Homo sapiens: one gene and its partner. The protein of the gene in region 1 interacts with the protein of each later gene in a biochemical or structural test. Each region holds a gene or a part of one and is shown on either strand. Other genes may lie near its edges.

Region 1 (3,655 bases):
AATGAGTAGAGGTACCCAGGGTACCAGAGACGGTAAGACCTTAAGGAAGATGAACAGGCAAAAGCAAACCAAAGAAAATCAAGGCAATTCTGGGAACTGCAAATTGATTTGAGATGTCAGCAGGATAGCCTGTGAGGTATGAGAAGATGAGCTGAAAAGCTGAACAACAGCCGAGCTTCTAGAAGCTTAGATTTTATCCAAACGTTAAGGTGAAAAACTGAAGGAGTTTATCAAGTGACTAGAATCAGATTTGCATTGTAATAAGCATATGCAGCTTCAGCTGAAGGTTAACTTTTTCAAGGATAAGCATTATCACCCACCCCTGGAAGGGCAGTCAATAACAAAAAGTCTGGTTTAAGGAGATAGAGGTTATCATGTGCTATCATACCACTTTAGAATATTTTTCTGGCTCCTATTCAGAAGTGCAACTGAGTTTAGCCATATCCAAAAGCCACCAAGGGCTTGGCGTGGTGGCTCACATCTGTGATCCGGGCACTTTGGAAGCCCAAGGTGGGAGGATTGCTTGTGCCCAGGAGTTTGAGTCCAACCTGGGCAACATAGTGAGATCTTCTCCATCAATCAAGCAGTCAACAACAAAAGCCACTAGGATAAGACAAAGATTCTTGCCCTGGCCCTTAATTTAGAATTCCTTGAAAGCATTCATTTTGAACTCCAACATAATTTAATTATTGTAAGACCCTTTCTAAGATCCTACTCATCTGGTCAGGTAATCTGTTCTAGCTATGACTCCTCAGTACCTCTCATAAGCATGCATCTCTCTTTGTGACAGATAAAGCCATACTTCTACTCCTATGTCCTCCAACTTGACTGGGAGCTCCTCTAGACAGAATCGATGGTTTATTCAACTTGTTTCCCCAGTGTCCAGCAAACATGGGACTAGTAGAAAGCCTTCCATGTCCTTTCTAACTACTGTGTTTACCAAAGCCTCATTAATCAGCAAAAAACACCATTTTCTCCAAAACCTGCAGGATAATAAGCTTCTATGACTACCTGTAAAGGGCTGGAACTCTTCCGAGGTCTCAGCCAGGGCACTTTGTGATTCAGTTGTGTCAACTGCTACAGAGAAAGAAACCTGCCCTCCAGTTTTGCAAAAAGGATAGTATAAATTTGGTTAGAAGACTGGGAACATCTCCTATCATGGACACATGGCTTATGTTATCACCTTTCCAGGAAAATTGATAGAAACCTGTGCACTCAAGTGGCATTTCCACACCTCCAGGGATTGGCTCTAAAGAACAGTGATAACCCTGCAGATAAAGCAGATGACAAAGTAAAAGCCAGAAGGCTGACCAGAGACAGGCAGGCAGAGAGACTCACCTGCTAGAAGGTGGGACTCTACCTAAATCGTGGACTTAGAGATTCCTTCACTACTTTCTCAGAGGGAAATGTATTTGAATTGGAAATAATTCCTGTTCATTAATTCCTCATAACTTCTAAATCTAGAACATGTAGCTATATGTTTCAACCCTGGAATTGATTTTTATATGAACTGAGCTACGGGTCCATAATGCTTTATCTCAAACAGTGGCCTCAATTTTGCCAGGAAGCAAGAGAAAAAGGAGTCAGCCAAGGAGTAAAGGAAACACAAAAAGGATGAAGTTATGGAGGTCACAGGAGGAAACTATTTTTCCCTTTGTTTCTTTAGTAACATATTTATGGTCTTTGCTTTTAAAAAAAGAAAAAAAAAAGCCTTCTTTTCTTCTTCTCTAACTTGAACAGTAATATGTACCCATGGTAAAAGTTTGAAGTTTTTTGTTTTTGTTCTTGTTTTGTTGTTGTTGTTTTTTGAGACAGAGTCTCGCTGTCGCCCAGGCTGGAGTGCAGTGGCACAATCTCGGCTCACTGCAGGCTCCGGCCCCCAGGGTTCACGCCATTCTCCTGCCTCAGCCTCCCAAGTAGCTGGGACTACAGGCGCCCACCACCTCGCCCGGCTAATTTTTTGTATTTTTAGTAGAGACGGGGTTTTACTGTGTTAGCCAGGATGGTCTCGATCTCCTGACCTCGCGATCCGCCCGCCTCGGCCTCCCAAAGTGCTGGGATTACAGGCGTGAGCCACTGCACCCGGCCAAAGTTTGACGTTTTAAGGAAGAAAATGAAAGTCAATCTTAAGTCCAACATAATATTCAAAAATAACTACCATCAATATTCTGCATACAAATGTACATTTTAAAAGCAAATCTGGGGTTGCACTGTTTATATATTGTTATAATCTGATTTTTCCACTTAATGTTACAAGCATTTTGATGCCTTTAAATATTCTACTAAAACATGATATTTATGGCTGCATAGTATTTCCTTAAATGGATTTAACTAGGGTATTTCTCTACTCTATAAGAGACACTCATCATAGCACTATCTAAAAGTACTTGATTATCCCTCTGATCATTTTCTTTGGATAAAAAACAAAGCTACTGGGTATGGAGAATAACCATTTGAAATATACTACCGCCAGGCGCAGTGGCTCACACCTGTAATCCCAGCACTTTGAGGGGCGGGGGCAGGTGGATCACCTGAGGTCAAGAGTTGGAGACCAGCCAGGCCAACATAGTGAAAATCAGCTGGGCATGGTAGCATGCACCTGTAATCCCAGCTACTCGGGAGGCTGAGACAGGAGAATCGCTTGAACCCGGGAGGCGGAGGTTGCAGTTAGCAGAGATCGAGCCACTGAACTGCAGCCTGGGCGACAGAGCAAGACTCCGTCCCCCCCCAAAAATATATACATATACTGCCAAATCGCCCTCCTGCGATGTGGGAGGAACCACATTCAAACCATTACACATGTAAAACACTGCACAACTGCTAAGAGATCAAGGTCTGAAAACCAGCCTTTGGGTTTGGCTTTCAGGAGGTCACTGTTATAGAAACCTTCTAGGGAAGGCTTTTTAAATGAAGTCCCATCTCAACTACTTTTTCTAAGCTTTAGTTCTCATAAAGAGCAAAGAGCTTTCAACCATCATCTCTGTGAAGAAAGCTGACAAATCTGTTCCTTGCCTTCAGATGTTGCTGCCACATTTCCAACTGCATTTCCAGGCAGATGTCCCTCGGTTACCTCAACAAATCGGAAGCCAAACAGGATACCTTTACCAAAGCTACCGCCCTCTCCTGACTTTCCTACTTTTTGTTCATTTATTGCATAAATGGTTTATTTAATATCCAAGTGGGTAAGGATACCACTCCTGCAGTGCAAGCCATGTGTCCAAAGTATTCTTTCCTAAATACAAGATGAAAGACATTCTGAGACATCCTAACACATTTGATGTTGTTTCTTCATACCCACTATTGATACTGGTGTATGGGTAGGCGCTTAGGGAAGATCTGGGCTAGCTCCAGACCCTCATCAGCTCTTGCTTGGATAAGTGCAATACCTCCTAACTTACCTCCCTACATTGTTTTCATCATTTCGGTACTCCTCAAAACTTTGTTTCCTCAAGCCTAATGGGATAAAAATCCAAATTCCAAGTCCTTCAAATCCAACTGCAACCTTCTTCCCAGCCTTATCTTCTGGTTCCTCACTCAAGCCGCCTGACTCAGTTAAGTCTTTCAGACTCCTTAACGAAAGGACATGATTATAGGTCCATATCCGCTTTGGTACCTTGATCTTTGTTGCTACTTTGTTCTCCACAAACGTGCCCTT
Region 2 (3,655 bases), on another chromosome or scaffold:
AAAAAGAAGTCCGTATTTACTTCTTTGTATTTACCTTTCCTATGCTCAGCTATATCCAAAAAGAGTTTGAAAAGTTAGCTGTGCCTGGCTGTTACAGGAGTGAGTGGAGAAAGCAGTTAAGGGCTTTACCAGGTCTCAAGTATTACAGTTGTTTTCTCTCTGTGATGTTAGTTCTCTCAGTAGCTAAGAGGTAGAAAACCGGAGGCTCTGGAAGAGCTGCCCAATAATTATAGAGCAGCTTTCTTTCATGGCTCACAGTTCCTTCTTAGGCCTCTATAAGCGTCACAAGGAAAAGAGACCATGCCTTTCTGTGGGCACAGCATACCTTCGTTTTATTACCCAAACCAAAAACAACCTACACACACACACACACACACACACACACACACACACACACACAAAACTGTGGGGGCAGGGAGGAAGGTGTTCTTGTTCCATGACTACAGCTGATTTGAAGACTGCCAAGTAGCTTTGGGGTTAAAGATGGGTAGATTTCCAAATTATACATCATTTGTTGTATGATCATGCCAACTTTCATTTAGTTTCATTTGGTGTCCTGATAGCCACCCTCAACCAATTATTCTGCTTGTCACTCTTCCTGTCACAGCAGGGACCAACTTAGCAAAGCCTTGCTCCTCTTGTGTCTTTCGGAATTCTAGTTTAAGAACCCTTGAGCCCCTTCACAAGCAGACACATGTACCTCCACTGGAGTCAACTCTGGGCTGCATGGATGTTGACACTGGCACCATTCCTGCCTGGATTGTCCTAACCCATACCCTTGCCCTTATCCCTTTGTCAACATATTGTCCTTTAATGTCCTTGACTTAAGCACTAAAAAAGTGGTATTGGTCAAAGTTGCTCTTTCTCTCATGGGGATGGCCCCGCATCTTTTATAGGTGCAAGCTGTGTCTTAGCTGCTTCTTGCTTCTAGCCTGCCTTCCGTTTTCCTTGCTGTGAGCAGTGAGCCTTTGTGCATGGGGCAGGGAGGATTAGGGGAAAATTGGTGAGTGAGTACATGCATGCATTGGCTCATGTGTGCACTCAGAATCTTCATAGAAGATTACTCTAGCAAAACTGACTGGACCAGATTAGCCCTTCCTTCCGCTCCCTCTCTAGACAGAGAGAATGCGATTCAAGACAACAGGTATTTTGCATCTAAAAAGGACAGAGGTGAAAGGGTGGATGTCAGACTAGCCTTGTTGGACAGTCATCCAAGATAGTATGTTCATGAGGGAGCAGAGGGAGGTAGATAGAGAGGTGATACCCTTTTCCAAGAGAGCCAAAATGTTCTTTTGTTCAATTATAATAGTGGGCATTAATCATGTTGTTTAAAAATCTAATGTACACTGACGGCCAATTGAGCATTTCCTAGGGCCCAAGGAAAATGCTATGTGAGAAATTCTCTGAGCCCTGGGCTAAATTAGTCTTCAAATATGTGCTATGAAGTGATACTGTCAAAGTAGTTAGTTTATGACAGCATAAAATATTTCATTGAACTGTAAATGAAGAACACCCTGACATCCCTTTCCATTTCTTTTATTTATTTGTTTTTTTTGTTTGTTTGTTTTTTCTGAATTGCTCCTTTCTGTAATTTGGGAAAGACTGCAGTTCTTTATCTGCGATGTTTCTTCCCGTTTTTCTCAGCAGAACCAGCTGTTGACAAGGAGTATACCCTTTACACGCAATGCTCTGGGGCCCAGCAAACAAAAAAAAGAGGAACTGTGACTATTTCCCCAGGCATGCTCTTTGAAAACAGTATAGCTAGACAGGACAGATTTTGCCACTTAAACTAGGGGTGTGATGTGAGGTTTGCATTACATTCAGGATGGAAGATTTAAAATTATCCTGAGTACCTAGGAATGTTCTTTTTTTCCATGTCTTCCCCTTTAATGATTTAATTAAGACTTAAATATGTAAAGTTCTCCACCAGGACTGCCCCGTGGAACGCTGTCTGCTCCAGGTGATGTTTATAATCACAAATGGGTTCCAAGAATAAACAAAGGAAAAACAGAAAAGAGTAGAAAAGCATAGGAGACTATAGGACAGCCTGCGAATGCTGGAGAACAGGAACCAGCTGCCGTTGTTAGGAACAACTTCATGAAGGAAAAGTATTCCAGATTGCCTTTCTGTCTGGAGGCCATATTATTCATTTATTCTCTTTCTCTCTCTCCCTCTCCCCTCGCTTCCAATGAATCTCTTCACTCTAGGAGAAAGAATGACGAGAACATAACACTAGAGACAGTTTGCCATGACCCCAAGCTCCCCTACCATGACTTTATTCTGGAAGATGCTGCTTCTCCAAAGTGCATTATGAAGGAAAAAAAAAAGCCTGGTGAGACTTTCTTCATGTGTTCCTGTAGCTCTGATGAGTGCAATGACAACATCATCTTCTCAGAAGGTGAGTTTTCTTCTCTTAAGGGTGTGGGACCTGAGATCTGTGCCAATTTTTTGTATCCTTGGTCTGCAGTGTCATAGAGCACATTCCTCCTGTGGTGGATTGCATACAGTGGATTAGGAGCTCATTCAGCTGGTGGAAAGAGGGGCTTGGGGAGTAGCAGGGTTTGTTCTGGTTCTCATCAAATATGGTTGACTGGGGCAAACATTATTATTTGTCTTTGACAAATAGTTTCTTTCACCTAGAGCAGTGTTTCTCAAAGTGCGGCCTCTTGAGCAGCCAGCATCAGTATCACCTGGGAACCTGTTATAAATGCAGATTCTCAGGCCCCACTAAATGAGAAACATAGAGGGTGAACCCCAGCTATCTGTATTTTAACAAGCCCTCCCAGTAATTCTGTGCAGCTAAAATTTGGTAACTATTGTTCTAAAGATTTGGATGGGGTTGTTTAATCTTGGAGGAGGACTTTCTTTATAACTGATGTTGTTTCTTGTACATAGTCCCAGGATTTGTCTTTAGGGTACTTGTCATCGATCCCATTTGAGAGAAACATTGCAATACAGAGAGGAAATAATAAGCCAAAGTTTACCCCTAGAGCCAGGAGAAGAGTAGATTAGATACTAGCCTCCATCTTTGAAGTTCAGCGTTTACTCAGCTTGAAAGGAAGGCATACACTATTCCCTCAATTTTTAATAAGAAGAGAATTCAGTGGTTTTTAATTACAAAAGTAGTATATGCTCGTCATCAAAAATTTCAAACAATCCAACAGTGTGTGAAAATTAAAAATGAAAGTACATTTTCGTCCTCCCCTCACTCCCAATGCAACAGATCATCTGTATTGACAATGTATTAGATGCACACACGTCTCTATCATTCATTCATATTATCTCCCACTCCATCCTCTCTCCCAATCTCTCCCTGTCTTCCTTTCTCTTTCCCTCCTTTCATCCATCTGTCCATCCTTCCATCCACTCATCCATCTTTCAGTACAACTATCTGATCATACTATAAATATTATTTTGCAACACTTTTTTATACCCAACCACTTTTACAATTCCTTCTAAACAAGATAGAACACATAGATATACTGTACATCTTTTAATTTAGTCTCGAATTTCATATTATCTCCCACGATGGATCTTATCATGTCCCTGTTGATGGATTGTCTTCAGTTTTTCCACTTAATGCTACATTGAATATCTTTGTAAAAATATCTCATGCATTTGTGCTAATATTTCTGCAAGGCAGATTGCCAGAAGT

The links. The genes of interacting proteins can lie anywhere in the genome.
Region 2: the proteins of CCNB2 (region 1) and TGFBR2 form a complex in vitro, tested with the Homo sapiens proteins (one study listed by BioGRID).

Annotation. Positions count from the first base shown.
Region 1 is NC_000015.10:59,108,138-59,111,792, reverse strand, and holds part of CCNB2 (G2/mitotic-specific cyclin-B2), read right to left. Parts: intron 1-3,655. UniProt on the Homo sapiens protein: Essential for the control of the cell cycle at the G2/M (mitosis) transition.
Region 2 is NC_000003.12:30,648,063-30,651,717, forward strand, and holds part of TGFBR2 (TGF-beta receptor type-2 isoform B precursor), read left to right. Parts: intron 1-2,207; coding exon 2,208-2,398; intron 2,399-3,655. UniProt on the Homo sapiens protein: Transmembrane serine/threonine kinase forming with the TGF-beta type I serine/threonine kinase receptor, TGFBR1, the non-promiscuous receptor for the TGF-beta cytokines TGFB1, TGFB2 and TGFB3.